Linked DNA regions of Homo sapiens: region 2 is linked to region 1. The links come from fine-mapping of genetic effects on gene expression. A gene starts in region 1. The other region holds a variant in brackets. All regions are shown on one strand. Distances are from middle to middle.

What was found. PIP is the estimated chance that this variant, and not a neighbour inherited with it, causes the effect. A credible set is the group of variants that fine-mapping cannot tell apart.
Region 2: its variant is the best candidate, but not a certain one, in a credible set for the expression of SOX8 in whole blood (INTERVAL, PIP 0.61).

What each region holds. Positions count from the first base shown.
Region 1 is chr16:979,174-983,551 of GRCh38, forward strand. SOX8 (SRY-box transcription factor 8) reads left to right here and starts at 2,597. Exons shown (of 3, transcript NM_014587.5): 1 at 2,597-3,171. The coding sequence starts at 2,750. It overlaps CEROX1 (cytoplasmic endogenous regulator of oxidative phosphorylation 1), which reads right to left and starts at 2,440. Exons shown (of 3, transcript NR_164343.1): 1 at 428-2,440. It also overlaps a transcript of LMF1 not described here.
Region 2 is chr16:1,016,493-1,020,870 of GRCh38, forward strand. No RefSeq gene overlaps it. Among named protein-coding and RNA genes, the nearest start is that of SOX8, 37 kb to the left of the region's middle. The variant C/T (reference allele first, on the strand shown) is at 2,022.

The DNA.
Region 1 (4,378 bases):
TCTGAAAGCTCCGTCCCGGCGTCCTCTCAGGCCTAGTGGCTCACACCCGCGGAGGACGAGGTCATTTTCCTGGGGACTTCAAGGTGGACCAGAGATGACTCTGGAAGGGGGGTTTGTGGGCACCACTCTGCATGGGGATCCTCACCCACATACCGCCCTCCCGGGAGTGCACCAACACGTCCTCAGCTGACTGGCCTAGGCCCCCACCACCCCGCCACAGAGACTCCCCACCTCCCCACCCCTCCTGTGGCAGCCTGCACGCCCAGCACCTCCCCTGGTGATCACTGCAACCTGGGGAAAGGAGCAGGCGCTGTTGGAGCCTGAGGCAGGGTCTCAGTTGCACAGACCACCGTGCCCCAGAGTCAGGGCCTGGATGCCACTCCCCAACCTCAGTCTCCCTTCCTCCAGGGGTGCTGGAGTTCCCCACCTGTGTCCCAGGGACTTGAAGCTTCCTTGGTGGATGGGGAGCCAGGAAGAGGCCACCCTGCCTGCTCGCAGACCTAATGCAACTGCTTTTCTTTGGCAAAGAGAGCTCTCCACGGAGGTCCTCACCCGGATGGCACTGTGAGCCCGAGTGGGCGATGTCTGCTCTCCCAGGGGCAGGGGGTGGAAGGTGGCACAGTTTGGACCGGACCCCCACCCTCACTGCTTCCACTTAAACCCCCACTTCTGCCTGCCTGCATCCCAGGCCTAACAGATGAGTTCCGCGGGCGCCCCAGGCGATGCTCTGAGGGCCACGGAAGGATGCGGGGACCCCGAGCGGAGGGCAGGGCCTCCAGGGGGAAGAGGCACTGCAGACGGAGGTGTGGGTCTTCCCAGGCAGGTGCCGGAGCCAAGCGAGATGGTGGGACGGGGAAGAGAGGGCAGGCCAGGCTGGCAGCCAGCTCTCCACCTACGATGCGTGGAGCCTCCCAACTCGCGCACTCCGTCTCCCCACCGCTGCTTCCTCTGACCTGGCTGCAGAGATGAGACCGCCCTCCGGGCAGGTGACACGGCCCTTGCTCTTCAGCCTGGAGGCCAATGCTTCCTCCAAAGGCCCTGGCCCCCTCAGCTCCGGGCCTGGCTCCGGTTGTTCCCAATGCAAAGCAGCAAGGGCCCCGGGGTCTGCGGACGGGGGCGGGCGGCCGCTGGGGGCACCAGCTCTCGGCCGGGCCAGAACAGGGGGTAGGAGGCGCGTCCTGTGCGGTCGGTGGCGGCCCCAGGTGGGTGCGGTGCGCTGGCAGGAAGCGGCAGCACGACCCCCGACTTTGCATCTGGACTTTTCTAGTAACGGACCAGCTCCTTCTGCCGACCGGGCCGGGGAGACCGCGTGGCTCAGTGGCTGCAGCGGCCACCGGCCCGGGCGTGGGGGCTTTGAGGGCACCGGCGCGGTAGGTCACCCGGGTTTCGCGGGCCGCAAGCTCGGAGACGCGCGTGTCCCGCGTTGGCTGCCTGACCCGGAATGGCGCAGCCCCTTCGCCTCCAGCGCGCTGGTTGAAAGGATCCGAGCCACCCTCGGGGACGGCCGGGCCGAGGCCACCTCGCGGGGCGGCCTTGGGCGGGGACCCGGACCCGCGGTTGGACGTTCGCCTCGGGGGGGGCAATGTCCCCTCTCCGACCCCGCGGTCCCCACCAGGGCGGCACACCCCGCCCTCTCCCCGCCTCCGCAGGCGCCCAGGGCTCACAGGCTCGGAGCGGCCTCCGCCTCTGCCGGACCACCCAGGGCCGCCCCGCCGGAGGGGCCTCCCCGCCCCCGAGCCCTAGGTCACGCCCGGAAGGCCCGGGGCCCCCGCGTCCGGCCACGCCATCCGCCCGGCGGCCCCAGGGACTCAGCGCCGGGGTCAGCGCAGGCCCCGCCCAGCGCTCCCGCCCCCTCCAGCTGGCCGGCCCCCGGGACCGCGCCCCCGCCCGCGCTCTCCACGCTCGCACTCGTATGGGCAGGGCGGCCCGGGGTCCCCCAGCTCCGAGCCGCGGCCCCTTGAAGCGCGTTACCTGGACGTGCGCTGTCCGCAGACTCTGGACGAGCTGGGCCTGGGCGCTGCGCGGCGGAACCGACCCTGTCCTGGACCGCAGGCAGCAGCTGACCCCGCGCCACCGGCCTGCGGGCGAGACCTCAGGCGCGAGACGGGCTGTGTGTGTGTGTGTGTGTGTGAGAGAGAGAGAGAGAGAGAGAGAGAGAGAGAGAGAGAGAGAGAGTGTGTGTGTGTGTGTGTGTGTGTGTGTGTGTGTGTGTGTGTGTCGGGGGAGGGGCCCGAGGACCCGCTTCCTAGCTGAGCGTCAGGACGGGGGGCGGACTCTCAGGAGCCGCGCGGCGCCCGCAGAGGAGAGGAAGCGCCGGAGACCCCCCTGCTCCCACCCGGCCTCCCTGCCCCGCTTCCTTTCCCGGGGCTCCAGAGAGGGGAGCTCCAGGCGTGGGGCGCCTGGCCCACGTGGTGCGGCGCCGGGCGGGGCAGGCGGGGGCGCGGCGAGAGCCGCGGAGCTTTCTTTATGGGTGGGGGGGCGGGGGCGGCCGGGCTCCGCCTCCGGGGGATCGGGGCGCGCTCCGCCAATGGGTAGCCGGGCGCGGGGCGGGGCCGCGGGGCCGCCGCTTAAAGAAACTTGTTGCGGGTCCCGCAGCGGGACCCGAGCCTCGGCGGCGGCGGCGGCGGCGGCAGGGGCGAGGGTCGGGGCCACCGCGCGGCGACCTCGGGTCCCGGAGCGACCGCAGGGCAGCCCCGGGCGCCGGCCCCGGTGCGCGTCTCCTGTGCGCGCCCCTCCGCGCGCGGCCCCGATGCTGGACATGAGCGAGGCCCGCTCCCAGCCGCCCTGCAGCCCGTCCGGCACCGCCAGCTCCATGTCGCACGTGGAGGACTCGGACTCGGACGCGCCGCCGTCTCCCGCCGGCTCCGAGGGCCTGGGCCGCGCGGGGGTCGCGGTGGGGGGCGCCCGGGGCGACCCGGCGGAGGCGGCGGACGAGCGCTTCCCGGCCTGCATCCGCGACGCCGTGTCGCAGGTGCTCAAGGGCTACGACTGGAGTCTGGTGCCCATGCCGGTGCGCGGCGGCGGCGGCGGCGCGCTCAAAGCCAAGCCGCATGTGAAGCGGCCCATGAACGCATTCATGGTGTGGGCGCAGGCGGCGCGCCGCAAGCTGGCCGACCAGTACCCGCACCTGCACAACGCCGAGCTCAGCAAGACGCTGGGCAAGCTGTGGCGGTGAGTGCCGGCGCCCCGGGGGCGGGGTTCGGGACCTTGGCCGCCCCTGGTCTCGGACTGCGAGCGGGGGCCTGGAGGGCGCAGAGCTCGCGGAGGTGGTGGCCACACGCAGGCTCCGGGCTCTGCACCCCGGGCGGGTGTCAGGGCGGGTCCCAGTGGAAAAACATCCTCTGGCCAGCCGGGGTCCGGCGCCAGCTATGGGAGTCGGGATCCGCGGAGGGCAGCGCCTGGGGTGTGCACCCTCGTGGCGGGTGCGCTCTGGAGCCAGTTCTCCTGGCGGGGAACACCCTGCGGAGGGCCATGGCTGGCACCCCGACGTGCCCTCCAGCCGTTGCGAGTGGCCCCAGCCCCGGGAGGCACGCCCGGCACGACAGCAAGTTGCATGCGGCTCTCTGGAGGTGCTCCCTCCTTAGAAAGGGCTCAGCTCCTCTAGCTCCTGGACCACCCATGGGGAGGGAGTGCGGCAGGCGGATGGGTGGGCAGCAGGTTTGCCTGCGAGTACCCTCCCCGCAGTTTCTCCCTCTCCTGGACACCCTCGGTCCGAAGCAGGGAGGGCAGGAGTGGAGATGACGGGGTGCGCCGTGTGCACGCCTTGGCGTGGTGGGGCCGGTCAGTTTTCCAGAAATTAGGACTGCAGAGTGAAGAACTTGTTGCTCAGGACAGGCCGCCCCCACCGAGTGTCCTCTGGTTGGGTTTCAAATGGTTCTCTTGGTTTGGGGCTCTGGTTCCCGTATCCTGCTCCTCACCTGGAAGAAGGGAGCTTGGAGCTTGCGTATTTGCACCTCCTGCCTTCTGTCTGGATCTAGGGCGCAGCCACGGGGCGCTGTGGACGGCAGGCCCCTGCTCCCCCAAGTCCTGCCGCACAGGCGGTTGGAGGTGAGCCTCGGGAAGAGTCCCAAGGAGTGTGTCCTGTGGCTCAGTGAGGACGGGCGCCTGGGCCCTGCCAGGGCTTCTGGGTGTCTGGGAATGGAGGGACAGCAGCCCAGCTGCCCGCCGAAGGCCGGCACCGTTCCCGGGAAGCCTCGCTTTTGTCCACCGCCGGCTGGGTCCTGCCCGCCTCCCCCGCCTCCCTTAGAAAGCCCCAGAGGGAGGGAACAGCAGGCCCGGAATAGGGGGAAATAGAAGGAGGAAGATGGGAGGCGTGGGGCTTGTTCTTCTTTGGCTGTCGTAAGCATACCAACCTTCCCAAACAGGCGCCGGCCGGTTC
Region 2 (4,378 bases), 37 kb after region 1:
ACTGGCTGCCTCTTTAGGGTTCTGGGCACTCTCTGAACTTTGTAGTTTCTTTGGCATTTTTTTTCTTTCCTTGTTTGCTCTTTATTAATTTTTTCATAATTTTATTTCTCAGACATAATTCACATAAGAGTCACCATTTTAAAATGGACGGCTCAATGATTTTAGCACGCCCACTAAATGTGCTGGAATTGTGTAACCATTATCACCATCGATTTTATTTCATTTTTAATTTTTGTGGATACACAGTAGGTATATATATTTATGGGGCACATGAGATGTTTGGATGCCAGCATGTGGTGCGAACTAAGCATGATCCGTTTTAGAACATTTTATCACCTCCCAAAAGAAATCACCTAACCTTGGCCAGGCACGGTGACTCACGCCTGTTATCCCAGCACTTTGGGAGGCCGAGGCGGGCGGATCATGAGACCATCCTGGCTAACGCAGTGAAACCCCGTCTCTACTAAAAACACACAAAAAATTAGCTGGGCGTGGTGGCGGGTGCCTGTAGTCCCAGCTACTGGGGAGGCTGAGGCAGGAGAATGGAGTGAACCCGGGAGGCGGAGCTTGCAGTGAGCCGAGATTGCGCCACTGCACTCCAGCCTGGGCGACAGAGCGAGACTCCGTCTCAAAATAAAAAAAAAATCATAAAAAATAAAAACAAAGAAAGAAATCACTCAACCTTTAGACATCAGTATTTCCGGATCCTCCCACTCCTGATTCCCTCAGCCCTAGACAAACACCAATCTGTTTTCTGTCGCTGCAGGTTTGCCTATTCAAGACATTTCACATAAATGGGATCACACGATGCGGGGCCTTTTGTGTCTGGCTTCTCCCACTGAACTCATGTTTTTAAGGTTCATCCATCCGGTAGCAAGGGTCAGAATCTCTTTCCTCTGTGAGGCTAGTGTTCCGCTGCGTGGGTGAACTGTCCCCCATCTATCCATTCAATTGTTAGTGGATGTTTGGGTGGCTTTCATTTTTTTTTTTTTTTTGGCTATTGTGAATAGTACTATGAACATCCATATACAAATGTGTGTGTGGACATATATTTTCAGTTATCTTGGGTAGATGGCTAGGAACGGAATTGCCAGGTCATGTGCTAATTCTAGGTTCCGACTTTTGAGGAACCATTAAATTGTTTTCCAAACTGGCTGCCTCATTCTCCATTCCTGCCAGCAGTGCGTGAAGACTTGTTTCTCCGCATCCTCACCAACACCTACAGCCTGGTTTTCCTGACATAAGCATCCTCATGGGTGTGAGGTGGCCTCTCATCGTGGCTTTGATTTGGGTTTCCCGGGTGGCTGGTGACACGGAGCATCTTTTCACGTGCTTGTTGGCCACAGGTGTATCTTCTTTGAGAAATGTCTGTTTCGATCCTTTGCTATTTTAAATTAGGTGATTTGTCTTTTTATTTTATTTTTTTTCTTTTTTCCTTTTTTCTTTTTTTGAGACAGAGTTTCGCTCTTGTTGCCCAGGCTGGAGTGCAATGGCACCATCTCAGCTCACTGCAGCCTCCACCTACCTGGTTCAAGCAATTCTCCTGCCCCAGCCTCTCGAGTAGCTGGGATTACAGATGCCCGCCGCCACGCCCGGCTAATTTTTATATTTTTAGTACAGATGGGGTTTCGCCACGTTGGCCGGGCTGGTCTCAAACTCCTGACCTCAGGTGATCCACCAGCCTCGGCCTCCCAAAGAGCTGGGATGACAGGTGTGAGCCACCGCAACCGGCCTTTATTGTTGACTTGTAAGGGCTCTTGATGTATTATGGATATTATATATCCCCTTATCAGATAAATGACTTGCAAATATTCCCCCCATTTGGTGGGTTGTCTTTTTACTTTCTCGATGGTGGCCTGTGAGACACAAAAAGTCTTTAACTTCAAATATCTCTCTACATTTTGTGTGCCTTTTGTTGCTTTTGGTGTCCTTATTTATTTTCTTTTTTTGAGACAGGGTCTCCCTTTGTCACTCCCCCAGCTAGAGTGCGGTGGCGTCATCACCGCTCTCTGCAGCCCCAA[C/T]CTCCCTGGGCTCAGCCATCCTCCTGCCCCAGCCACCTGGGTAGTCAGGGCTCCAGGTGCACGCCACCACACCCGGCTAATGTTTGTATTTCTTGTAGTGATGGGGTCTCGCTATGTTGCCCAGGTTGGTCTCAAACTCCTGGGCTCAAACAACCGTGCCTTGGCCTCCCAATGTGCTGGGATTACCGGTGTGAGCCACTGTGCCTGGCCTTTATTCATTTCTATGTGGCTGAACACATTTGGTATGGATCCCAGGCCCTTGGTGAGCTGGGTGGGTGCAGACACACATGTGTGGATGGAGCCCAGGCCCTTGGTGAGCTGGGTGAGTGCAGACACACATGCGTGGATGGAGCCCAGGCCCTTGGTGAGCTGGGTGGGTGCAGACACACATGCGTGGATGTGGGCATGGGCAGGCACAGGTGTGGTGGGAAGAGTGTGCCCAGCGTTAGGTGTCAGGGGAGCTCAGGAAGATTGAGGCAGTCAGGGAGGACTTCCTGATGGAGGAGCCTGGTCCTTTGAAATGTGGGGTGGGGACCTCGCCCCACATTCAGTCTGGTTCGGGGGTGGGGCCCCCAGCCCCCCTCACATTGGGGGTGTGTTCCCCTCCTCCTTTTGGAGCCCAGCCCCAGGTTGCAGGAACAGTGAGCAGCGAGACCACAGGGCTGGAAGCCCACGGGGTAATTAATTTTGACTTACAGGAGCTGTCTTAAATTGGATAGAAACTGGCGAAAATAGGATTAAGAGGGAAGCTGAGCCAAGAGCAAACAGAAGGAAAACTCCCCGAGAGCCGGGCGCCTGGCGGGGCTCTCGGAGCCGCTGAGCGGGAAGAGGCACAGGACATTGCTGGGCGATCGCGTCATGTCCGAAGGCGGCCTCCCCGTGCCACCCCACGGGAGCGGCGGCCGCGCTGGCTGGGAAGATGGGAACGCGGCACTCTGCCCTCCCTGCAGCTGGCTTATCTGCGCTGAGCTCACTCGATTCTGAGGATTAATTTGGAAACAATTAAAATTCTGTGCAAAACAAGCAGTGGGCTGGGCCGGCCAGCAGGCTGGCACGCACGGAGCCCTTTCATCACCAGCGCAGAAATCTAATTAGTGTGGGATTAAGCCGGCCACAAACCAGCGAGCCGGGAAGGCTCCGGCAAGGGCAGATGAAGCCCCGGGGCGAGGAGCGCCGTACAGCACGGGTGTCCGGCCGGCAGCAGCCCCGGCCCTGGCCCTGCGCTGGCGTCTCGGCTGAGTCGAGCCGGAAGGCCACCCCCACAGGCGCTGTCCTGACCCCCCGCCGTCCGGTCACCCCCAGCCCACGGGCCCTTTCCCGTCCACGTGCTAGGAAATGGCAAACCCATCAGAGCCCTGAGGGAAGGCAGCGGAGGGCGCAGGCGCCTGCAGGCCTCGCGCACGGGGACCCCACTTCGCAGCTGGGCTTTGCGGCTCCTAAATATGCCTGGGACCTGTCCCGTTGACTTTCTCTTTCGAAGTGCCTTTGAGTGTCTGGCAGCCGTGACTTTCTATCGGGCCGCCTCTCTGGCCGGCTTCCTGCTGCAATGATCGCTGAAGCCTCTCCCCAAGCTCTACAGGCGTGGTCTGTTGGGGTCAGATGCATGAGGCATGTGGCTGATAGCGCGGGGTGCATGTGGCTGTTTTGCTGGTGTCTGGAGGCGCTGGGTTTGGCCGGGACACGGTCGAGAACTCCCCGTCGGGCCCTCAGGTAGCAGAGGTGACAGCCCTGTGGGTTCGCCTGTTGGCCAGATATGTGAGGACCACTGGCTGCAGTGGAGCTGACTCCACGCCTTGTAAGCTACCCCTTCTGGGTTCTGCAGGGCACAGCCAGAGGGGGGGCAGGGCAGCTGTCTGCAGAAGGTCCCTCCAGGCCACCTCTGGGGCAGTAGCTGGCTTCCCAGTGTCCCAGGAGCCAGCAGACCCCTCCCAGAAAAACGCATTCCCGCAGCCCCTCTCCACCTGCAGGACCCGTTCTGGCTGTGCCCTCGGGCCCCAGAATAACAAACCCTTTGGGTGCTACCGGGCACAAGGACGATTCTCTGGGGGCATCTGCAGCTCCCTGGCAGCTCTGTGCGGTCCTGGTGCACAGGGAGGGGTGTGAGTGCGTGTTGCTCTCAGGGCGGGTGGGAGGGGAGGACCAGGCAGGCTCAGGGGCCTGAGGGCAGCAGCCCTGGGGGGGCCTTTTGTAGCACGAGGGTGGAGGGAGGGCAGGCGGTGGGGAGGCTCACCCCACCCATGGCAGGGGGAAAGCCTCAGGGGGAGACCAGACTTCTCACCTCCCTTCTGTCACCTCCGGTCACCCCACAAAGCCAGTGGGCACCAGGGCCTGCGGACGTCCTGGGGACAGGACTGGGG